4 linked regions of the Homo sapiens genome follow. The protein of the gene in region 3 purifies or fractionates together with the protein of the main gene of each other region. This does not show direct contact. Each region holds a gene or a part of one and is shown on either strand. Other genes may lie near its edges.

Evidence for each region.
Region 1: the proteins of ZNF211 (region 3) and NT5DC3 purify together in Homo sapiens (affinity purification with mass spectrometry; 2 studies listed by BioGRID and IntAct, with this or other methods). This does not show direct contact.
Region 2: the proteins of ZNF211 (region 3) and USP34 purify together in Homo sapiens (co-immunoprecipitation; 2 studies listed by BioGRID and IntAct, with this or other methods). This does not show direct contact.
Region 4: the proteins of ZNF211 (region 3) and SMARCAD1 purify together in Homo sapiens (co-immunoprecipitation; 3 studies listed by BioGRID and IntAct, with this or other methods). This does not show direct contact.

The regions. Positions count from the first base shown.
Region 1 is NC_000012.12:103,775,235-103,782,234, forward strand, and holds part of NT5DC3 (5'-nucleotidase domain-containing protein 3), read right to left. Parts: intron 5,131-7,000; coding exon 5,066-5,130; intron 2,848-5,065; coding exon 2,595-2,847; 3' UTR 1-2,594.
Region 2 is NC_000002.12:61,468,078-61,475,480, forward strand, and holds the start of USP34 (ubiquitin carboxyl-terminal hydrolase 34), read right to left. Parts: upstream 3,011-7,403; 5' UTR 2,616-3,010; coding exon 2,573-2,615; intron 1-2,572. UniProt on the Homo sapiens protein: Ubiquitin hydrolase that can remove conjugated ubiquitin from AXIN1 and AXIN2, thereby acting as a regulator of Wnt signaling pathway.
Region 3 is NC_000019.10:57,628,994-57,636,167, reverse strand, and holds the start of ZNF211 (zinc finger protein 211), read right to left. Parts: upstream 3,001-7,174; 5' UTR 2,822-3,000; coding exon 2,732-2,821; intron 2,456-2,731; exon of another isoform or gene 2,263-2,455; intron 2,146-2,262; coding exon 2,107-2,145; intron 1,540-2,106; coding exon 1,413-1,539; intron 1,351-1,412; coding exon of another isoform or gene 1,230-1,350; intron 1-1,229.
Region 4 is NC_000004.12:94,287,854-94,291,828, reverse strand, and holds the end of SMARCAD1 (SWI/SNF-related matrix-associated actin-dependent regulator of chromatin subfamily A containing DEAD/H box 1), read right to left. Parts: intron 2,357-3,975; coding exon 2,295-2,356; 3' UTR 537-2,294; downstream 1-536. UniProt on the Homo sapiens protein: DNA helicase that possesses intrinsic ATP-dependent nucleosome-remodeling activity and is both required for DNA repair and heterochromatin organization.

The sequences.
Region 1 (7,000 bases), on a different chromosome or scaffold from region 3:
CTGCCAAGCTCAATGGCCCAGAGACTGAAATTCTTCTAACTGGGAATTGATTACAAAACTCATTATTCATACCCAAAAATGTTTTTCTCCTTCAAAGCTTAGGTCACCTAACGTGAACACTCATGGAAACAGGTTTTAAAAATAGTTCTACTTCATTCTTGAGTAAACAAAACACCCTATAACTGGCACCTGGTAGGTAATCAATGAATATCTGATTAGATAAAAACCAAGAATTATTTTTAAGCAACACCTACTTCCTGAATCTGCTTCTCCAAAGCAGAAACTTGAAGCCAAGAACACCAGCGCATTCTTTTAGAACCCCGACACCGAGCAGTTCTGGGCGCAACACACACCCATTAAGTGTCAGCCTCCAATACACCCTGATGGCGAAAACACCTAGAAGCAAGCAAACAATAAACAAAATGCCTACCCTGTTCCAAAAAAAGAACATACTACTGTGCCTTACTGTGTTCATAACAAAATGTAGAAGATGGGGAGAAGCCTTATTGGATCTAAAGGGTCACCTTCACCATTATAGTTAAATACAGCCAAATATCACAAGTACATTCCAACTATAACAAGCAGCATTACAAAGGATGCTATATAACTCATTAAGTTTCTGCCATCTGGCAAGGAGCCCATGGAATGCCAGACTTGGATTTCATCAATAGATGGTTACATACATTTATCACAATAAAAATGTTGAATAAGCAAGCACTCTCCACAAGCTCCCCTCATGTTCCTGCCATCCTTTAGATTTAAGAATATATACAAGTTACCGCAAAAGCTTAAAATGAGTTTTAGCAATACTAGATTAGGCTAATCTGAACAGAAGTATTGATATAGCATATGCAATTAAAACAGTATTAGCAGCCCCATAACTAATAACAGCAGACATTCCCATAGCACTCAGAGAGTGCAGTAAATATGCACTTTACATTGAAGGATACTACAAATGCAGGTGCAATTAAGGATTCTTCCCTCCAACAAAAGGAATACATGCCACTTGCATTGCCCCTAGAAAGAAATGAAAAAAGCAGGCCAGGTGCGGTGGCTCACACCTGTAATCCCAGCAATTTGGGAGGCCAAGGCGGGCAGATTATCTGAGGTCGGGAGTTCGAGACCAGCCTGACCAACATGGAGAAACCCCATCTCTACTAGAAATACAAAATTAGCTGGGTGTGGTAGTGCATGCCTGTAATCCCAGCTACTTGGGAGGCTGAGGCAGGAGAATCGCTTGAACCCGGGAGGCAGAGGTTGCAGTGAGCTGAGATTGTGCCACTGCACTCCAGCCTGGGCAATAAGAGCAAAACTCCATCTCAACAAAACAAAACAGAAGGAAATGAGAAAAGCTTGGTTAGCTAGGTCATATCTATTCCTTAGCTTCAATGTCCTTCGCCCTTTCCCATCTTAGACATCTAAAAAAAAACAAAACAAAACAAAAAAAAAAAAAACAAACTACACAAACTCCCAAATAGTCGCACAAACATCACAGGAGTGAAATCTAAGAGAAGGCTGGACATGGCTAAGTTGTGGTGGCCATCTTCCTCCTCCCCTGGCCAATCCAAGCACCTCTCAGTTGGTAACTCATTAGAGAGAAGCCAGGATCTTGTTTGTTTCCATCTAGACAAAGGACTGTTTCTGGTAAATCTCATGTTTTAACAGGATTCCAATTCAACTGGGTGGGTGGCATGGCATAGCATTTCATGACAAAGATGCTTTTTCCTGGTTCATTTTCTTTCTTCCAATGAGCAGATGAAACCAACTCAGGTGGTGTTTCCAGGTTTAACAAGCTCCTGGGAGACCTACCACAAATGTTTTGGTTCTTCAAACCCACTCGTTTCTTGCAGAAGGCTCTACAGAAGGCTGTTCCACTAGCTGGCAGGTTTTGACCAGAGCTCTCATCTCCTCTCTCCTGCCCTCCTCCATGCTGGGGAAGGACGCAGGAACCACACACTGAGGACAAAAGGGTCCAGGAGTTGCAGCTTCTCTTGTTCTTTCTCACTTAAGTCCTTCCAGGGAGGCTGTGTTCTATTTGATGTGATGTGCCAGAATGTCAAAGCCTTAGTACCAAATGATTTGGGAACTGGCCATCACCTGGGGAACCTCTCTGCCACTCACAGCAGCGTTTTACCATTGTGGAGCCCACGAAATCAGCCTTCTGGAAGCAGCTAATCTTTGCCCATCACTGTGCCCCTGCAGTTCCCAATGCATAGCCCGTAAATGTTCAGGAAATGTTCCATGGAGGAGTCAAGAACCGTTTCAAGCTTGACCTGCTAGAATACAGACATGGCATCAAGTGGTCTCACCTATCCCAGGAAACCTGATGTTCCAGGACCTCAGTAAACAAAAAGGCAAAATCAGAGTTCCAATGTGAAGCTTGCCTTTCAGCCCTGCATGGGGGGAAAGGCTGGAGGGGTGGGCTGCTAGCTCCTGTCTTAACCATTGGGAGAATTATTCTCCGTAAGGTACAAAATAAATATCAAAAGGCTTATCTGTATCTTTTCCAAAAGCAACACTCAGACCCACATGAAGTCAACCCCATCATGCCTGCCCAATCAGGGGCAGTTACAGTTTCTAGTTTTTGCCCTTGGCTACTTGGCCTGGGCCTCCTGCAGGAGAGGGGTTCCGAAGGTGGGGGGCCTTTCTGACCAGGCGGGCAGTTCGTGCTGCAGTGGAGTCCTCCGGGGGTAGAAAGTGTGGCTGACGTCATAGTTCAGGAGGCAGCTCAGAGACGCCATGTAGATGTCAGCGAAGCGCGACAGGCGCCTTAGGAAGTAGGTTGGGTTCTGGTCTGTGCGGAACAGGCTTCCAAACTGGGCATTGAAGAAACTCTTGGTCATTTCTCTGAAGAGGCAATAAAAAAGCAAAGCAACAGAGAATGATTCAAAAATCCTTGTTTTTAAACTACTGAAATCAAAATCACTTCTTTTTTTAAAAAAAAAAAATAGGACTCATTTGAGAAACATGTTAGCCTAGAGCAGCCCCAAATATTAATTAAGAAAACAGCCTAGAGCCAGGTGTGGTGGCTCACATCTGTAATCCCAGCACTTGGGGAGGCCAAGGCAGGCAGATCACTTGAGGCCAGGAGTTCGAGACCAGCCTGGCCAACATGGTGAAACCCCGTCTCTATTAAAAATACAAAAATTGGCCAGGCGTGGTGGCGCACACCTGTAATCCCAGCTACACAGGAGGCTGAGGCACAAGAATCATTTGAACCAGGGAGGCAGAGGGTGCAGTAAGCAGAGATCATGCCACTGCACTCCAGCCTGGGCAACAGAGCGAAACTCCGTCTCACAAAAACAAAAACAAACAAACAAAAAAAACAGTCTGGCCTGGGCATGGCAGGTGGATCACTTGCGCCCTGGCCCACCAGCATGGGCAACATAGTGAGACCTTGTCTCTACAAAAATGCAAAAAATTTGACCAGGCATGGTGGCATATGTCTGTAGTTCCAGCTACTCAGGAGGCTGAAGTCGGAGAATCACTTGAGCCTGGGTGGTTGAGGCTGCAGTGAGCTGTGACTGTGCCACTGCACTCCAGCCTGGGTGACAGAATGAGACCCTATCTCAAAAAAAGAAAAGAAAAGAAAAGAAAACAGCCTGCCTATCCATCCATCAAAACGACTCTGGTCACATTTCCCCCTTAACTGTCTCAAGGCTCCAGATTCTTTTGCAAGCTTCTCTAAATACACACGCCCCATCTCCCAAACCTAAACACAGGATGCAACAGCTGCTCCCGATGGTACACAGAGGAATACGGAATGCTCTCAGGAGGCTCCACTTCCCTTACCGAAAGGATCAAGACCCCGTTTTACAAGGTTATTGTGAGAACTGAGTAAGGTAAGCAAAATAAAAGCATGTTGTAAACTCTCAAGTGCTCAGATGGAGGAATTAAAGATTGTTTTATGTGATGTAAATCTCCCCCAACCATTACATACTTCAATGCCTCCCAGCCTCCTCGGAAGTGAGGCTGTTCACCCCATCCAAGCCCCATAACCCCCTGCAGTCATCCTTACGGGCATGTATATCTATATCAACATCCCTATCATACAAACACAGGATGTGCACTCTCTCTGATGGCTGGGACCCTACACACAGAGTATTCCATTAAAATGAATGAATTCTATTTGACTGCTAATAAGTCATTTACAAACACAGCAAAAAATATAATCATTTACACAGCTGTGTGATAAAAGCCACTAGTTAGTTGGTAGCAGTTAGAATAAGACTCAGACAGCCAACACTCTGAGAGGGAGGAGGACAAACTAAATGCAATACAGCTTTGGCTTCTGCAGAATCTGAGGAATGGACTCACTGCCCCCTCTCCATGCCCCATCCACCCACCCACGCACACCACCACATGAACCCTGGAGTCAGGCTGCCCACTGCTGAGAGGCCAGAATCCCACAGTAACCACTGTTTCCAAAGCTCAGAGACGGCTATACCCAGCGGCTGAAGAAAGCCATGCACAAAGTCAGAAAAGTTCATGCAAGTGGTATAAAGCATCCTTCTAGGGAAGCATGATTGTCAGTATGGGTTCCCTTAAGACAGACACCCACCAAACTTTTCTTATGGCAGGCAGGCTTTCTTTATCAGTTAACATCCTGCTTACTGATTGCACATTCTTGAAATAGCTGTGGTTACAAATAAGCACCAGGGTCGTAGGAGCCCTAAGAATTCATTGAGGGTTCAGAGCCCAAATCCAGTGCTGCCCAGTAGCCACATGGTGCTGCCAGCATTATTAACAACTGGCCCACCAGCTGCCCAGATGGGAAGGTCAGGCAGGCAGGAAGGAGGAATGAGATGGGAAGGCTCCGTTCTCCAAAGGCCTTCGATGGCAAGGGCGGAGGAATGACAGGGGTGATGGCTGGCCTCAAGGAAATTTGTCACATGTTACCAACAGCAGGTAGCTGATTCTGGATCCTGGGGGAGGCAGACATACCTGGGAGCTAAAATAGGATGTTTCAACATTATGCCTCAGGCTGGCCCTGGGGAACACATGTGGGCTGAGCACAGCCAGAACAGGGTGGTGGACGCGCACATTCAATACAGGCCTCTCTTACCGCATCTCCTTCCTTTCCTTTTTCCACTCCTGCAAAACCAGCTGTGACTCAGCATCTCTGTGAACCTGTAGGACACAAGTCAATTATTACAACTGTTTTGATTTCAAATAAGCTCATTACGTAATGAGAATTTTTTAATGAGCAGTTTTTCTAGGAGAAATTTTATTCCCTTACATCTCAGAGGCTGGCACCTGAATGAAATAATACATTTTTCAGACCTTCCAGTTGAAACCCTGCCTTCTTCATGAATAAAAAATTGTTTTAAATGTCCAACATTAGAAATGTGGTTTAACAAATTAAGATGTATTATGAAGTTATTAACCTATCAGTAAAGATTACATATAAACATAATGCATGTGTATCCATGTATGTATAACACATGTATGTGATATATCCATTATGCACATGATACATCCATTACACATATATTATATACATGTGTACAAACTATAATGTACAAATACTTAGTACATGCTACCTATTATACATATTATATACATGTGTACAAACGTTATAGTTAAGTAGAAATGGCGTATATACCCACCAATTGCAAGCATGTCAAAGTATGTGCTTACATTTGGAAATTAACATAAAAATTTGTTTTAATTTGTACAGGGGTAGTAGAATTATAAATAAACCTTTTAATTTAATATTATATTAAGTGTTTAATTTAAAAAAACAATTATTTTTTTGCAAAAGGCAAGAAGGCAAATCACCTCAATGAGAAGGAAGAGCAGAGCATTTTCTGGTGGGCCAAAATATGGGCGAAAGGCAAAAAGAAAATGCCAATTGCCCATGATCTAACAAATGGAATCTCACAAGTCCCTCTCCAAGGTTCTTATGGCTAAACAGAAACACTGAGGCCAGAATCCAAGGTGCACATGATCGCAGGGAACAGGCCAGCTCCCTGCAATTCATGACCACAGGGGTAACCTTAGAACCTGGAGGAAAACACCAAGCGGGCAAACCATCTGCTTTTGACATGGGAGCCAAGAACCTTCTGTTTATCACATCTGCCCAGTTCAACAGCTTGACTCTGAACCCTGAGGCTGTTGAAGGGACATGTAAAGGAGAAAGACCCCAGGAATCAGAGGCCAGGGACGCATGCCCAGAGGGGGACCCTGAGCTCTGCGCCTTCACTCGGCCACCCTTCGGGCCTTACCTCCCACGAAGCACCCAGCAGCTGGCTGGGGCGCCCTGCTGGCTGCCCTGCCATGAACCTTTCCCACCATTTATCATCTCTCTCATAGGAACAGCCCTCTCGCCTGCATCCTTCCCATCAGCCATTAAACATGCTCAAGTCTCTCCCATTGAAAAAAGAAGATTTCTCCTGGTGCCCAACCCCCTTTCTCCAGCTCTGTCCCCCTACAAGGCCAAACTCCATAAAACAAGAGCCTCTGGTTCTGAAATCCACTTTAAAATATTTCAAAGACAGTGTGTGTTCATTAGCTATCATTAATCTTTCAAGTGAAACCATGCACTCTAGAGTGGGTACTTAACATTGGAAAAGACTAACCGAAGCCCCACAGAGAACTGATCCTACAGGCACTTCAGCCATCTCCATCTCCAGTGGTTGTTCATGGGCATAATCAGCTCTTTAGGGGCAAAACAGATTGGCTACATATCTTTGCCCTTGTTTGAGAAAGATATTACAATCTAGCCAGTGCAATAGCCTACATCAGTCCAGCCACCGGCCCATTTTTCTATCAGCCTATAAGCTTACAAATGGGTTTTTCTTTTTCAATGGTTGGGGGAAAAAAAACTCAAAAGAAGAATAATTTCATGACAGGCTGGGCGTGGTAGCTCACGCCTATAATCCCAGCATTTTGGGAGGCCAAGGCAGGTGGATCACTTGAGGCCAGGAGTTCGAGACCAGCCCGGCCAACATGGTGAAACCCAGTCTCTTCAAAAATACAAAAATTAGCTGGGCATGCT
Region 2 (7,403 bases), on a different chromosome or scaffold from region 3:
ACTCATGTTCATTATCATGCTCCATCATAGCCACGGATAAGCAAAGAACTACAGAAAAAAAAACAACTTTTAATAGTGTGGTATAAACTACACATGTAATTGTTGAAGTAAAAAAAATGTTTTTTGAGACAAAGTTTCGCTCTTGTTGCCCAGGCTGGAGTGCAATGGCACAATCTCGGCTCACTGCAACCTCCGCCTCCGGGTTCAAGCAATTCTCCTGGTCAGCCTCCCCAGTAGCTGGGATTACAAGCATGTGCCACCACGCTCAGCTAATTTTGTATTTTGAGTAGAGACGGGGTTTCTCCATGTTAGTCAGGCTGGTCTTGAACTCCCAACCTCAGGTGATCCGCCAACCTTGGCCTCGCAAAGTGTTGGGATTACAGGCGTGAGCCACTGCGCCTGGCCGTAAATTTTTTTAAAAAGGAAGCATCACTGTGAGATTATTGTTTAAGAGTTAAACTTTTAAATTGAGCCTCAAAGGCAATATTAAGAAACTAAGTATTTTTAGAGTCCACTGGCTTACACACAAATAGAAAATCCTTACTTGTTCATTAGAACAGGTTTCTTAGAGGGTGCACATGACCAGATTTTGAGAAGCTGGTTGAACTAACTGTATTTGCTTAAAGGTAATAAAAGCTAAATTCTATTTCAATTCTCCACATTTCTAACACTCCATAAATGCACTGCATTTTTCAGTGCTTCTAACCAAAGTTCTAGGGGTTTCCCAGATAATCTTAAATAAGACCTTTCATTATGATCAAGATGCCACCTCTTTTCAAAAGATAAACCAACTTTACTTTCTTTAGATGTTTTGTTTAAAATTTTCCAAGTTTAAGATATTTTAAAATCAGCCAGGCGCAGTGGCTCACGCCTGTAATCCCAGCACTTTGGGAGGCCGAGGCAGGCGGATCACAAGGTCAGGAGCTCAAGACCAGCCTGACCAACATGGTGAAACCCCGTCTCTACCAAAAATACAAAAATCAGCCGGGCATGGTGTGGGGAACCTACATTTCCAGCTACTTGGGAGGCTGAGGCAGGAGAATCGCTTGAACCTGGGAGGCAGAGTTTGCAGTGAGCCGAGATCATGCCATTGCCCTCCAGCTTGGGCAACAAGAGCAAAACTCTGTCTCAAGAAAAAAAAAAGATATTTAAAATCACCAACAAAATTAAGTACTTGTTCCTCATATTACATTGCAAAACGATTAACTTTCCAAGTTGAGCGTAACAATCATAATCACACGACTTGTATGTGAGATATAAAACACAGTAAGTATTGAGGATTTAAGTTTATCATATCGTAAACCGCCTGCGCCAGAAATAAAAGTATCTCAAAATACACACAAATAATCTTAAAATTCTAGGATAATTTAGGGTGACACAAATACTGGAACCTCTAGTTGGAATATGTGCAAAAGCCTATTCCACCTATCAGGAAGTAAATACGGAGTTGAAATTAAGTTAGAACCCTTCCACTTTTATTATTGTCTTTGGTCATTAAAGTGACAGTCAAACACAAATACCATGGTACATTTTATAAATCAACTGTTTTAGCGAATTGTATTACAAAATTAGATAGTCTGAAAGTCTGTGGAAATATCACAAACAGAATACAAATCCAAAACCCACATAAACTGTTCATAAGTGAGCATTTTTTCAACAATCAACTTTTTGTAAATTGATCCCTTCATCTAATTCACCTCTGCCAACTAGGCCTTTACGCCCAGAAGTAGTTGATTTGCAATATATCTTCTATAAGCTGAAATACCATCTTGCAAGGGTCGAGAATAAAATAAAAAGGCCAGAAAAGATCAACGTACCCTTTTTAATAATAAAAAGTAAAGTACCAGGTAAAAGGCCTTTCCTTCCAAGAGAGATAGGCCATAACTATCCCGGGATGGTATGTGTAGTACAGTGCTCTGCTTAACAGAATGTACCATTAAAGCGGTGAATGCTACACTAAGAAACATCATTAACAAATTTATTTTAAAAATAGGTATGAAGGTTCCAATCATCACTATCACAGTTCGTTTTCAGCTATTTAAGGTCTGGCTGAAGTGTTTAAGACACCCACAAACCCGCAAGGGAGGGAAAAACCACCACCCTGCTCCCGGGAGTTTAATGAAAATTAGCAGGTAAGAGAGGCCTCGGCAGCACGCTGGAAATCAAAGAGGGCGGCCGGAGGATTTGGACTGCGGAGGAAAGCCTCGTCCTCCGACCCCACCTCCCCGCACCTTCCCGGCAGGGCGAAGGAGGCGAAGGCGGCGAGGGGTTCATTACTGCCTTCATTAATTGACACCTGTAATGAGGAAACTTTCCGAGAGCCCAGAGCGCCCGGGCCAGGCCGAGCCGGAGCTCCGCGGCGGCCGCCTCTCGGGCGCCCAGGTAACCCGGCCGGGCTGGGCCCGAGGCGCCGCGGCGGCCGCGCCACCGCGCACCTTCCCGGGGCGCTAGGCCCGCACGCCGCCCGGCCCGGCCGTCGCCTCCCGCAGGCCGCGGCAGCCCGGGGAGGCCAGAGAGCTGCGCGAGGACCCCAAACCGTGCACCCCGACAGGCCGCTACCGCGGCTACTTACTTTCATTTAACACCTCCACCAGGTCTGCGCAGTTCTCGCACATCGTTCGGCCGCCGCCCCCCCCCTCCCCCGCTTCGGATCACACTGACTGATCCCGACCGGCGGGGGGGAGGGGAGAGAGGCGGAGGAGGGGGCCGGCCGGCCGGCGGGGCGGGGAGGCGACTAGGGCGGGCGGCGGCGGGGACGGGGCGGGGAGCAAGAGAATGGGGGAGGGGGCCGGCGGTCCCCGCAGCGGGAGGGGGAGAGGAGGGGAGCGAGGGGAGGTGCGCAGGCCGGAGGGGCGCCGAGGCGCCGGCGGCGGGGAAGGGGGGGAAGGACGGGGGGAGGGGAGAGGGGGGGAGGGGGCGGGTGGGGAGAGAAGCAGCAGAGTCACTTCACCGACCAGACGCCGCGGCCACCGCCGACGCCGCCGCCATTTTAACAGAGCGCTCGGGCTGCGCTCGGCTCTTTCCGCCCGGGCTTAGGAGCGGACGAGAGGCGCCTCGCGCTCTCATTCCTCCGCCTCCCTCCCTTTCTCGCCTCTCCTCCGCCCCCCACCTCTCCCTCCGCACACACGCCGCACGCTCCACACCCCGCCGTGGCCGGCTCGCCGCCCTCCCTTTCCTCTTCCGTCCGGCCTCCCCGCCCTCGGTCCACCCCCTCCGCGCGCTCGCCCACCCCGCCCAGCCCGGATCTCTGTCAGCGGCCGGAAGGGAAACGCGAAGCCAGCGCGGCCGCGGGGGGAGTCCGGGTGAGTAGGAGAAGATGGCGGAGGCAACGGACGGGTCGCGGTTGCGTGGCGTCGCCCACCACGACCCACTCCACGGGCTCTGAGGCCCGGGGAGCGCCAGGTCACTCGCTCCGTCCTGTCCCCCGCCCCTGGGCTTCGCCATTTTTCCCCAGGGCCTGGGTCGGGGAGTTGGTGCGGGTTTCTTTGGTGTCCCCGGCCTCTTCCGCGCTTAGGCTTTTGGGGTACGGGAAGCAAGGAGTCAACTTGGGTGCCGGGCCGGGTCTACGCCGTAGCCCTCTTTCGGGCGCAAGGGCCACTCCCCCCGGGGTCTGAGAGTGAATCAGCCCAGGGCCCGGCTTAACTGCATCGGTGATTATCGCTACCCTGCAGTTCCTTGAAGGTCCTCCGTCCTGGAGCAGTAAGATCCTTGACGTAACTAGAAATGGCAGGGTAAGGAGTGTTTGCCTGACATCGTCTCGTTTTTACGGAAGAGGGCCCCTCACGATGTGCCCATCAGCCCCACCTGAAATAGCAAGAAATCTTCTTCAGCAGAGAGCGAATAACAAGGATATTAAGATAAAGAACAGGTGAAGGGGGCAGTCAGCTGAAGCTTGTAAGGGAATTTTCCTCACGCCGGCACTTACCCCTTGCTTGCTAATTTTTGTGTTCAACGTGTTTACATAGACATGTGACTGCAAAGTCCGAAAGATCGTGTACAGAATCTCTGAACGGTAACCAGAGTGTCTGTCAAGGCTCTGTAGTCATTCTCTCGATAGCTTTTGTGGAGGTTATGGCACGCCCATCTCTCCATGCCAGAACCACCTGGTTCCAAATGCTTTGCCTTTCTGCTGCTTGAAGTTGATACTATAAACAGTCTGCCCAACCCGTTTTGTTTCCCACTAGCAGGTGATCCTTAGGATTGTAGTTCTATTCTACCATCATCTTCCCTTCTTCCTTGTCTTTCTCACAGAATTGGGTTTTTGCAGACTTACTTTGGATCCTGAGGCAGACATTCGTTGTCCACTCAACATACATTCCCACGTATCCCTTTTTTCCCTGCCAACACAACCCCAATTATTTTTATTTGAATTTTTTTTTTTTGAGACAAAGTCTCACTCTGTCGCCAAGGTTAGAGTGCAGTGGTGCGATCACAGTTCACTACAGCCTCCACTTTATGGGCTCAAGGGATCCTCCCACTTCCCTAGTAGCTGGGGCTACAGGCGCTCTCCACCACACGTAACTAATTGTTTTTTATTTTTAGTAGGGACAGGGTCTTGCTATGTTACCCAGGCTGGTCTCAAACTCCTGGCCTCAACTGATCCTCCGGCCCAAAATGTTAGGATTACAGGTATGAGCCAACGTGCTGGTCTCACGTTTTTTCAGGTAGCAGTTGAAACCAACCATCATGGTGATCTGGCTTTTCTAGGGCTGGCCATACATAATTGAGTTCCTCCTGATAAAAGGTAAGCAACAATCCTGAGAAACATAGTGGGAGCCCTGTGTCTACAAAAATTTAAAAGGTGGCTGGGCGCGTTGGCTCACTCCTGAAATCCCGCACTTAGGGAGGCTGAGGTGAGCAAATCACCTGAGGTCGGGAGCTCTAGACCGGCCTGACCAACATGGACAAAGCTCATCTCTGCTAAAAATACAAAATTAGGCATGGTGGTGCATGCCTGTAATCCCAGCTACTCAGGAGGCTGAGGCAGGAGAATCGCTTGAACCCGGGAGGCAGGGGTTGCGGTGAGCCGAGATCGCGCCATTGCACTCCAGCCTGGGATAAGAGTGAAACTCCGTCTCATAAAAAAAAAAAAAAAAAAAGGCCAGGCATGGTGGTTCATGCCTGTAATCCCAGCGCTTTGGGAGGCCGAGGCGAGAAGATCACTAAATCAGGAGATTGAGACCATCCTGGCTAACACGGTGAAACCCCGTCTCTACTAAAAATACAAAAAATTAGCCAGGCATGGTGGTGGGCGCCTGTAGTCCCAGCTACTTGGGAGGCTGAGGCAGGAGAATGGCATGAACCCAGGGAGCAAAGCTTGCAGTGAGCTGAGATCGCGCCACTGCACTCCAGCCTGGGCGACACAGCAAGACTCCGTCTCAAAAAAAAAAAAAAAAAATTACCTGGTCGTGGTGGCTCACGACTATAATCATAGTACTTTGAGAGTCCAAGGCAGATGGATTGCTTGAGCCTGGGAGTTCTACATCAACCTGGGCAACATGGCAAAAGTCCATCTCCAGTACATAAGAAAATTAGTGGAATGTGGTGGTGCACACCTGTAATCCCAGCTACTGGGGAGGCTGAGGTGGGAGGATCACTAGAGCCCAGGAGATTGAGACTGCAGTGAGCTGTGGTCATACCACTGCAGTCTAGCCTGGGTGACAGAGTGAGACCCTCTCTGGAAAAAAAAAGAAATGTAAGCAGAAATCTGCAGGATGGGTTCTTTGGGAAGAATTCCCAAAAGAATTCCTAATACGATGAGGGACAAATTCAGCTAACATACCATTTAACCCTTTCTGCCTGAAACATGGTCTTGATGCACAAAGTAATACCCATCTTGTAATTTTTTTAACAATGAAAACTTTTACCCCATTTGCGATTTCATTGTTTAAAAAATTTGATTAAACAGGCCGGGCACAGTGGCTCACGCCTGTAATCCCAACACTTTGGGAGGCTGAGGCAGGTGGATCACCTGAGGTCAGAGTTCAAGACCAGCCTTACCTACATGCTGAAACCCCATCTCTTCTAAAAATATAAAAAATGAGCCGGGTGTGGTGGCGGGCACTTTGTAATCCCAGCTACTCGGGAGGCTGAGGCTGGAGAATTGCTTGAACCCGGGGGTGGAGGTTGCAGTGAGCCGAGATTCTGCCATTGCACTCCAGCCTGGGCAACAAGAGCAAAAAAAATTCCATCTCGAAAAAAAATGATAAAACAGAATCATAAAGTGTGGATCCCTGATGCATCTTTGAACAACAGTCTATGCTCAGACTGCTTATGTGAGAAAAATAAAATGTATTTTTCTTGGCTGGGCATGGTGGCCTACACCTGTATTCCCAGAACTTTGAGAGGCTAAGGAGGGCAGATCACTTGAGGACAGGAGTTAGAGACCGGCCTGGCCAACGTAATGAAACCCATCTCTACTAAAAATACAAAAATTAGGCTGGGCGCAATGGCTCACGCCTGTACTCCCAGCACTTTGGGAGGGGGAGGTGGGCAGAACACAAGGTCAGGAGTTCAAGACCAGCCTGGCCAACGTAGTGAAGCCTCGTCTCTACTAAAAATACAAAAATTAGCCGGGTTTGATGGCGCATGCCTATAGTCCCAACTACTTGGGAGGCTGAGGCAAGAGAATTGCTTGAACCCAGGAGGCAGAAGTTGCAGTGAGCCAAGATCGCACCAGTGCACTCCAGCCTCGGCGACAGAGCAAGACTCCGTCTCAAAAAAAAAAAAAAGCCGGTTGTGGTGGAGGGCACCTGTAATCCCAGCCACTCAGAAGGCTGAGGCAGGAGAATCCCTTGAACCCGGGAGGCAGAGGTTGCAGTGAGCTGCAGTTGCCACTGCACTCCAGCCTGGATGACAGAGCAAGACTCCTCAAAAAAGTTCTTTTTCTTTAAGCCATTCTTCAGATTTTCGTTACTTGTAACCAAACACATTTCTAACTACTGATTACAGATACTCTTTTTTTTTTTTTTTTTTTTTTTTGAGTCTCGCTTTTTTTGCCCAGGCTGGAGTGCAGTGGAGTGATCTCCGCTCACTGCCAGCTCCGCCTCCCGGGTTCAGGCCATTCTCCTGCCTCAGCCTCCTGAGTAGCTGGGACTACAGGTGCCACCACCACACCTGTCTACTTTTTTGTATTTTTAGTAGAGATGGGGTTTCTCCATGTTGGTCAGGCTGGTCTCGAACTCCCACCCTCAGGTGATCCGCCCGCCTCGGCCTCCTAAAGTGCTGTGATTACAGGCGTGAGCCACCGCGCCCGGCCAAGTGTGTATAACTGTTGATCAACATTTTGAAGACCAGTTATGACAGTTAAATTATTTGCCACAACTCAAATGAACAGCAGAGCACTTTATCACAAACTAACATTCACCCTGGAATGTACTGTACAGTCAACCTATTCTGTCTCC
Region 3 (7,174 bases):
GCAAATCACATATCTGATAAGGGAATATCTAGAACACACAGATAACCCTTAAAGCTCAATAAAAAATTATATTTAATACTTCTAATTATAATTAATAAAACCTAATTTAAAAATAGGCAAAGGACTTGAATAAGCAATATCATTTGAAGATATACAAATAGCCAATCAGCACATGAATAGATGCTCAATATCAGTAATCTGCAAATCACAACCACAGTGAGATATCACCTCACACCAATTTGGATGACTTATCAAAAAAATCAGAAAATAACAAGTGATGGTGAGGGTGTGAAGAAACTGGAACCTTTGTCAGCTGCTTGTGGGAATGTAAAATGGTGCAGCTGCTATGAAAAACAATTTTAGTGGTTCCTTAAAAATTAAAAATAATTACCTTATGATCCAGAAATTCTACTTTTGGGCCAATACCCAAAAGAATTGAAAGCAAGGACACAAATACGTATCTGTACACCCATGTTCACAGTAATATTATTCACAACAGCCAGAAGGTGAAAACAACCTGTGTCCACTGATGAAGGAATGGATAAACAAACTGTAATACATACAAAAGAATATTATTCAGCCTTAAAAAGAAGCAATTCTGATATATATTACAACATGGATGAATCTTGAAGATATTATGCTAAGTGAAGTAAGCCAGATAGAAAAGAACAAATATTGTGTGATCCCACTCATATGAGGTACTTACAGTAGACAAATTCATACAGACCAAAAGTAAAATGGTGGTTGCCAGGGGATGGGAAGAGTTATTATTTAATGAGTACAAAGTTTCAGTTTTATAAGATGAAAAAGTACTATAGAAGGATGGTGGTGATGGTTGCACAATAATGCGAATGTACTAAATGCGCTGAACTATATACTTGAAAATGATTAAAATGGTAAATTTTGTTATATATATTTTACAATTAAAAACAAAGAAAAACACCTTGAAGGAGGTTTCTATAAGAACAGTCTGTGTAATGTCTCTGCGGCACAATTTGTTAGAGTGTTCTGCTGTTAATGGAAAGGTTGGTGGTTGAAGAACAGTCTGTGTAAATAGTGGCAATGTCAGTGACTACATTTCATGTCACAGTCTAGCACAAATAAATGTTAGGTACACGAAGGGAGGGAAAACTGGGTGCCATAGATCTAGAAAGTCACCAGACAGGGAGAAGGCAAGTCAGGTGGGATCTATTAGGCTTACTGTAAGACTACTGATCCCAAATCCTTACCCAAGATGCTTTTGGGCTGGGACGATAAGGGAAGTAGGCTTGCACTCAGTCCACAACATCTACCCAGGGAACTGGGGAAGGAGGCAGTGCCTATAGTCCAGATATGAGGACAGAGCTGCTCCTGAGGAAAAGGAGAAACAGAGAGCCTAGTCCAGGGCACAAGGGTGAGTATGAGGGCCTTACCCAGGGAGGACGTAAGTGCAAAGTTCTCCAGCATCACATCGAAGTACAGGTGTTTCTGAGCCTCATCAAGGAGATCCCATTCCTCCCAGGAGAAGTACACGGCCACATCTTCAAAGGTCACACTTCCCTAGCATAATAGGGATTGATGAAACCATGAACAGTCTCAATTTGGAAGACTCAAAATCCATGTCCCCATACATTCTCCTCCCAAGATCCCCAAGTCAGAAGAGACACCAGACCTTGGTGTCATTGATCCCTGCTGTCTCTTCACATTCCCATTAGTCACTGTGTTCATTCTGTTTTCCACTCTGTATCCTGTCAACACTTGGGTTAGATAAATCTCCCTCCTCTGATCCCAAACTCCAACTTCCTCACAATAGATGCCAAACTTCACAGAAATAAAGGAAACCTGCAGTTCCCTGAACCAGCTCAGCCTCACCTCCAAGGAGTTCCAAAAGCTGGTACCTACCTGTTTCTATCATAAATTTTCACCCATCTTTCCATTGGCTGCTCCAAATGGAAACATTGGCCTGGACTCAGGGCCCTTAGCTCAGGGATTCTCCAGGGTTCCCAAACCAAACGCTGAGAGAATGGTAGGTGAGTCCCATGACACCACAAATCTAAAGAAAATATCTGTCTGGGGAGGGTGGAGGGACATTCCAGACCAGTGAGGGGCTGAGATACCTCCACTTACCTGTGTAAGTTTGAAAAGCACCTCTGTAGCTATGGGAACCTGTGGAAAGACGCAGGCCTCAGAGGAATGTGATCATGGCAGTGCTCCATGGGCACAGGCCTTCCCTGTACCCTTGCCCCGGCCCAGAGCCACGTAACTTTGGGTCGACTGTCTAACCTGTGCGCCTCGGTCCTTAGTGCTGCCTCTCACCAGTTGTGTGGCCTTGGAAAAATATTCAACCTCCCTCTGCCTCAACGTCCTCATCCATCTCTAAAGTCTTTTCTTCCACTGAACAGCCTGCAGAGGATTTTTCAAATTTAACTCAGATGGTGTCTCTCGTTTGCGCAAGCTCTCTATGGCTCCCACGGCCCTAAGAATAAAGGTAGATCTCTCTCAAACTTTGTTCCCTGCAGTAACAATGTGGAGCCCAGGTTCCTGAATGCCCCCTTCTCGGTTGCCCGTCCAAGCCCTGCACGCGCCGGTCCTGTCCCTTGTCCCCCTGCCCACCACATCGGATGTCAGAAATAGGGGCCCCACCCACGAGCCTCAGTGTCCCCGACCCTGTGCTACAGAGACGTGAGCTGGTGCCTCTCACTTGGGACTTAAGAATCTCGGCCGGGGGAGGCCCGGAGATCGCAGCGCTCACCGAAGCCGGGTCCCTCAGTGCGGTCGCCATCCGAGTCTGTGGGCGGAGCTGGACCGGGAGCTGCGGGCGACCCGGGGGGAACCCGAGCATCGCTATCCCCAGGCCGGCCTCGCGGGCGGCTCTGCCCCCGACCCTCAGACCTGACTCTCGCGCCTTCACGGTCCGTCACTTCGATCCCGATGCAGCGTACCAAAGCGGCTGACAGACAGAACGGACCTCCGGGAGGGCAGCCAAAATGACCGCTGCGAAGACGCCACAAGTCCCGCCCTGGGGGGGGCGGGGGTAGACCCACACGGAAATGCCCCTGTCTTGGATTTTCATTGGATCAAAGTACTGCCGCTCGACGCAAGGCTTTCTGGGTAATGTAGTCTCCCCCAGGCTGCGACGGAGGGCGCCTTGTGTGCAGACAGCTGGGAGCGCTAGGAAGCTGCGTCTGCTGCCTTCCAGGGCGACTGAGGGGCTTCGGTGTTTGAGGTCTTAAGTAGGTTGACACTTGAACAACACAGGTTTGAGCTGTGCGGGTCCATTTACACGTAGGCGTTTTTTTTCCCCAATAAACGTTACTTCGAGTGTGCTCCTTTTCCTGCCTCTTCCAGCTCCCCGACCTCTTGCCCCAGAGACAGCAAGACCTCATTCTCTTGCCCAGCATGAAGAACACAAGGATGAAGACCTTTATGATGATCCACTTCCACTTAATGATTAGTAAATGTATTTTCCCTTCCGTATTCTTTTATTTTCCTTTTTTTAATTGGGTGTAATGTCAACGAGCCTCTTACAATTTTCCTGATACCCTTTCTCTGGTCTGTTTTAGTACAAGTATAGTTCTTATACTAAAATATATATAATGCATATATCATACAAAATGCATATATCATATATATTATGCATATATCATGCATATATCATACAAAATGTGTTAATCGACTGGGAGTTTATGTAATTCATAAGGCTTCCGGGCAACTTCATAAGGCTTCCGGGCAACAGTTGGCTATTAGTAGTTAAGACCTAGGGGAGTCAAAAGTAATACAAGCATTTTCAATTCCGCAGGGGTCGGTATCCCTGACCCCTGCGTCGTTTAAGGGTCAGCTGTATATCAGTCTCTAGTGTAGAGGTTCACTTCAGTATTTAGACATCATTTCAGATTCCATGCAGCCCACCCCAGCAGATCTCCACTGGTAGTGGGAAGCGAAAAAACGTTATCTTATTGCTCTTCAAATGCATGCAGCCTGAAGTGTTAAAGTCACTTTTTGTAGGTTTTGTCAGGGACAAAAGACACCAGACAGGGCTACAATGGGAAGATAGTGGAGGGATAGTGGGCAGCCCTGAAGCCAACGGACAAGGGAAGTTCCCTGCTTCTGGTGCCCCCAGAAAACGCTCTCCTGCCTGCAAAGTCAGTTTTGTTCATAAAACATGAAGCTTTAATACATGAATGTTCATTTTCCTTGTATAATCAAAACATTTAATTTTTTTTTGAGACAGGGTCTCACTCTGTTGTCCAGGCTGGAGTACAGTGGAACAATCATAGCTCATTGCAGCCTCCACTTCCTGGGCTCAAGTGATCCTCCCACCTCAGCCTCTTGAGTAGCTGGCACTACAAGCACACCACCACACCCGGCTAGTTAAAAAAAAAATTATTGTAGGAATGGAGTCTCCCTATAGGGCCCAGGCTAGTCTCAAACTCCTAGGGCCATGCAATCTTCTTGCCTCAGCCTCCCAAACTGCTGAGATTACAAGCATGAGTCACCATGCCCAGACAAAAGTTTTTAATGCATAAAATATCAAATTATTATCATTATTTTAAACAGGGCCTCACTCCGTCGCCCAGAAAGTTTATATTATTTTAAGGTACATATATGCACATTGTTAAATGTACACATATACATTTTATATATATTAGATAGATCAAATTTTACGTTTCACAATAAAAATGATCCTTTAGGACAAATTAATACCAGTAAAATAAAATAAAATTAAAAGTTGTGAAATGATTTTATCAAATATATAATGTATTTGTTTACACATTTACTACAAAAATTTATAAGTGGAATGACTACTATTGTACATCTGGTTAGATCTCACAATGGGCTTGTCATTGTTTTTAGGAAAAAGGTTAGAGTTCTTGGCTGGGCCTATATTACAGAACCAACCATTACATATTGCTTCACCTCCTACCATGTATCTCCTCTATATCCTACACATGCTGAATTTCCTCAGATCCCTGAAAGCTGTGTGTGCATTCACATGCAGGGATCTTTCCAGGTTACCTTTTTCCTACCTGAGACTGCTGAATCCTATTGTGCTTTAAAAATTCATACTTTCAGGTAATCAACTGAGAAACTAGTGAAAAATGACATAACTGGCTGGGCACAGTGGCTCACACCTGTAATCCCAGCAGGTGTGATTGCTGCTCCCACCTTGGGAGGCCGAGGTGGGCGAATCACCTAAGGTCAGGAGTTCAAGACCAGCCTGGCCAACATGGTGAAACCCCGTCTCCATTAAAAATTCCAAAATTAGTCGGGCGTGGTGGTGGCACCTGTAATCCCAGTTACTCGGGAGGCCGAGGCAGGAGAATCAGAATCACTTGAACCTGGGAAGTGAAGGTTGCAGTGAGTCGAGATCGTACCACTGCACTCCAGCCTGGGTGACAGAGCAAGACTCCAAAAAAAAAAAAAAAAAAAGGACACAACTCTTTATGTCCAAATTCAATGTTTCCATCCATTGCACGTACTCAAAACTTCCCAGTACTCCTCATGAGGTAATGAAGCATAGGTTAAGTAAGTTTTGTATAATTGTGTAAATTTTTCAGGGCCGGGCTTGGTGGCTCATGCCTGTAATCCCAGCACTTTGGGAGGCTGAGGCAGGCAGATCACAAGGTCAAGAGATCAAGACCATCCTGGCCAACATGGTGAAACCCTGTCTCTACTAAAAAATACAAAAATTACCTGGGCGTGGTGGCGCATGCCTGTAGTCCCAGCTACTTGGGAGGCTGAGGCAGGAGAATCGCTTGAACCCAGGAGGTGGAGGTTGCAGTAAGCCGAGATCATGCCACGACACTCCAGCCTAGTGACAGTGTGAGACTCCGTCTCAAAAAAAAAAAAAAGAAAAAAAAGAAACATCTTAATTAAAAAACGAAATGGGCAAAGACTTTAGGTTTAGATACCTCACCAGAGAAGATACACAGATGGCAAATAAGTGTATGAAAAGATAATCCCCATCATATGTCATCAGGGAAGTAAAAATTAAAACAGCACTGAGATACCACTACACATCTATTAGAATGAACAACCTCTGTAACACTGACAACTGCAAATGGTTGAGAAAATGTACAGCAACAGGAGCTCTCATTGCTGACGGGAATGCAAAGTTGTACAGCCACTTTGAAATGGAGTTTGGTGGTTTCTTACAAAACTAAACACACTTTTACCATACAATACGGTAACCATATTTTTCAGAATTTATCCATATGAGTGGAAAATTTATGTCCACACAAAAACCTGTACATGTGTGTGTATAGCAGTTTTATCCAAAATTGGCATACTTTGGAAGCAACAAAAATGTCCCTCAGTAAGTGAATGGATTAGAAACTGTAGTATATCGCCAGGCGTGGTGGCTCACGTCTGTAATCCCAGCACTTTGGGAGGCCGAGGTGGGCGGATCATGAGGTCAGGAGATCGAGACCATCCTGGCTAACACGGTGAAACCCCCGTCTCTACTAAAAATACAAAAAAAAAAAAAAAAAAAAAAAATTAGCTGGGCATGGTGGCAGGCACCTGTAGTCCCAGCTGTTCGGGAGGCTGAGGCAGGAGAGTGGCGTGAACCCGGGAGGCGGAGGTTGCAGTGAGCCGAGATCACGCCACTGCACTCCAGCCTGGGCGACAGAGCGAGACTCCGTCTCAAAAAAAAAAAGAAACAAAGAAAGAAAAGAAACTGTAGTATATCTAGACAATGGAACATTACTCAATGCTGAAGGTAAATGAATCTTCAAGACGTGAAAAAACATGGAGGTACCTTGTATGCATACCACTAAATGAAAGAGGCCAATCTGAAAAGGCAATATACTGTATGATTCCAATTAATGACATTTGAGAAAAGGTAAAAGTATGAAAGAGTAAAAAGATCAGTGGTTGCTGGGGGTTTAGAAGGGTAGGAGGGATGAATTTGTGGAGCACAGAGGATTACTATTTTAGATGACACTCTAATAGTGGACACGTGTCATTGTACCTTTGTCCAAACACATAGAATGTACAACACTAAGAGTGAACCCTAAAGTAAAGTAGGGACTTTGGATGATAATGATGTGTCAGTGTAGGTTTATAATTGCTACAAATGTGCCACTGCGGTTGGGGTGAGGGGCGCTATGCTTATGTAGGTGCAGGGAGTATATGGAATATCTCTTTACCTTCCCCTTAATTTTACTGCAAACCTAAAAGTGCTCTTAAAAAC
Region 4 (3,975 bases), on a different chromosome or scaffold from region 3:
ATATTGAATTTATAATTTCAAAAATACATTTTTGGTAAGAGTTAAAACAATCCGAATTCCTTAAATTTATGGACTGTGAAGTATCACACGTAAGGTCACACAAATGGAAACCAAATCTCCTCATACCCCGTCTCTCCACTACACGATAATGCCAACTGTTAGGAACTACAGTAATGTTTCAAAGTAAGTATCTACTGGCATAAAGTTAAAACTCTATGGGGGTCCCAAACAGTTATAAAAATGCATAAGGCATGTCTTCTTTGTGTAGCTTGCATTTAAAAAATGCTTCAGTTGGTCAAGATATTACTCCAACTCTCGCTTCATTTGCTCTGTAGTGATAATGGGTTACAGTATTTACTGACATCAGTCCAATGAAGGAACCAATGAGAATACATCCTAAGTAGTAAGTTCCAATTTACTGGCAAACAGGCAATATTAAGCACATAAGATAATCTCATTTGTGCCCAATATTATATGATTTTAAGGGTAGGAGGAGGAAGGGTTAGAAACTATTAAAAAGGGTGTGAAAATACAACTTATGATCACAAATATTTTTATTAAGCCCAAGACATAATAGCGCATTACAGGAAGAACCCAACTACATTTCATTAGAGATAAAAGTATGGATATAACAACAACAACAATAACAACAAAAAAAGAAACAGCCTATCATTGAAAATACATTAATACAGAAAACATGAGATATCCATTATGAGATTTTAAAAGGTAAAATTCCTAACAATTTGAATAACTGATTTGGGTATAGTGATGTACAAGGAGGTAGTATTAACACATGAAGACTCCTTTTAGCCCTGTAATGGTAAAATATATTCAGTCTGTTCAATATACCATCAAGACTGGGGTTAAGCCGTGAGTTCTCAGTCTTTAATATCTAAATAATCACTGTAAGAGTTTTATTTGCCTTCCAAATCCAGAGGGTCGTACTACCTAGCATCTTAGCAAGTTAGGATGCTTTGAAAAGCATGATTTCCAAAAATTAACAAATCTTTGATTTATAAATAAGTTTATTTATAATGATATTTACATAATAAAAACAAAACACATGGAACTCACAAGTTATACAAAGAAACTGATGTATAATAAAAACAGCAATATAGACTGACAGGCAGAAATTTAAAGAAAGATTTAATAAAGAGTTAAATATCAAATAGACAACTTCACTTCTAAATTTCACTTTGTCACTCACACTGAATTGGAATTGAACAATGGCTCTCTCTTCAGGCGGTCCTGTACTGGAAATTCTGGAAACTGGTAAAATATATTTTGATAAGAGTTTCAAGTTAATGACCTATTTCCATGCAGTACCTAATGCTGCCTTTAGATGAAGTCACATTCAGTCTGCTTTGAAATGAAATAGCTTTAAGTAATCTGTTCTGCCAGGCTAGAAAAATGTCACCAACATTTTGCTGATGCATGGAGATGTGGCAGTAATAAACTACTATTTAGAGAGGAAGAGAATTGGAGCAGAAGTGACTGGGCAACAGTTTCAAGAGAAGCAAAAGCCGGGAGAGGGAAATCAATGAAAACATGCACAAGATTAGGCAGAGTAATATGCACAATTAGTGCAGTTGGAAAATGAACAGAAGGAATTAATCCATGGAGCAAGGTAGGGGCTTCTTTAGTTACTATTCACTGGAAAACAACTTAGTGCCTAGCCAAATAAATTTGTTTCAGCAGAAGTACTTGAGAGGACCTGGGGGATGTTAGTATATGGAATGCCACCTTTAAATTCAGGTTGAGTTCTTGCTGACATTGGTGAACATCTGCTTCAAATAGCAATAAAATGAAAGCTATATAATCTATACAGCTGCATTCTTTAACATAATAAAAAAGAACTTCAAATGAGACAAGCAAAAACAAGACATAAGCATTGTCAAATAAGGCACATGTAAAAATCTACACACATTATCCAGTGAAAGACAATATATATATATTTGGAGGTAGAAATAATTACAAAAATACTGACATTTCTAAAGCATTAGCATATTTGTTACAAACAATCACCAACTAATCCCCATTCAGAAAACTGCTTTGTAAAATGATTATTCAACATCTTCAGAACTACATATTTGTGGCTTCTTTTTTGAAATTTCACGTGTGAGTATTTGGAGAATTCAGTTAGTGGCAAAAAGTTGTCCATACTATGAGAAATGTAATATGGAAATTATAAAAAGTTATAAATGTTCATAAACCCCATGGTCATCATAATGTAAATGTCCTTGAGTGCACCAAGTTGATATTTCCTCATCAATTGAGAGTTCACAGTTCTTATTTCACAGGCCCATTGATGTTTTTAGTAATGTGGCTATATCTGCTGGCATACTCCCTTCATCACCTGTAGGTCAGAAAGTAGCATTAAAAGCTTTATAAAAATATTTTACTTAAAAAAAAATTGTCTCAATTATTTTTTTTCTTTGGTGAATTCTTACTCATCTTTCAAGGGCTAGTTTGCTTCAGTGTCACTCACCCCTGTTAAAAACTTTCCTAAGCTCTACTTAGATTAGGGCTATTTCCTCTATGTTCTTGTTCATATTGCCAACATAGCAATCTAAGGTTATTTTTCCAATTTTATAAAGCTATATAAAAATACACGGTAATACACTGGATCGTATCTAATTCATGGTACTTAACTTCTCACATTTGCTAAATAAAAAACATTTATGTAAGAAATGGAGTAGGGAAAACAAGGATAACAAACCCAAACCTAAACCAACGAAAACCAATCTATATTCTTATTTTTCATCTAAAGATATAATCACTGACTCAGACCCACACTGTATACATATAAACAACATTCTGAGCACAGCATACCAGCTGATGATTAAATTAGCCACTTTAAATTACCTGGTTTATCCAATGTTTGCCCTATATTTTAATTAAATGAGGCCCCAGTATAAGCACTTACAGGAATTATTTGAGATTTTCTAAATCTCTTTGTGTCACAGTGGCAGATAATCTAGCCATCCCTGATTAATTCAATTTAGCACTGAGAATATTTTGAGATGAGTTGATTAATTTACTAGTTAGTGACAACAGCACAGGTGGCAATTCAAATATTTGCTGATCTGTGATAGATCTGTAACTATGAATAATTTTATAAATTAGATGTGGCTGAAATGTAGCAAAACTAACCACTTCTCTCCTCCTCCCCTCTCTCACAAATATACACCTCAGCTATAATCTAAAATTATGAGTACTTTCATCCACTCTTCTTTTCTCTGTTAAAAAAACAAAAAACAAAACAAAACACATATATCCACAGGAACACAAAATAGTACATCAACTCTTAGGGATGTCAGTTCACTGACATCCTTGCTTCCAAGCTCATCCACAGACTTGAAAATAGCCCATAAAATCCAAATTGACACTTCATAAATTACTATATAAACTGATACTATGTTAGGAAGAATGCAGGGAGAAGAGAAAAGAAGGAAAAGAATAAGGAGATTCTTTTAAACTTGAAGATACTAAAGACAGAATACAATAAAATGCTGTGTGTGAACTTTGGACCCTAGTGTTTTAAGGAAAGCTATAAAAGACATTAAGGGGACAAATGAGAGAAATCTGGATATGAATAATATATGATAATGTCTGAAAATTACTGTTTATTTTCTTAGATGCTACAATGGTATTGTACCAACTTTGAGGAATATGCTGTGATATTGAAAATAAATTGCCATGTTTACAATTGACTTTATTATGGATCAATGGGAAAAAAGAAGTAGAAAAAACAAACACTGCAAATGTCACAACTGTTAAATCGCTGTATTTTTCATTCATACTATACTTTCAACAATTAAAAAAATATATATATATTTTAATAGAGATGGAGTCTTGCTATGTTGCCCAGGCTGGTTTTGAACTCCTGGGCTCAAACGATCCTCCCGCCTGTCTCCCCAAGTGCTGGCATTATAAGCATGAACCACACGCCCAGCCACTGCTTTCATTTTTGTA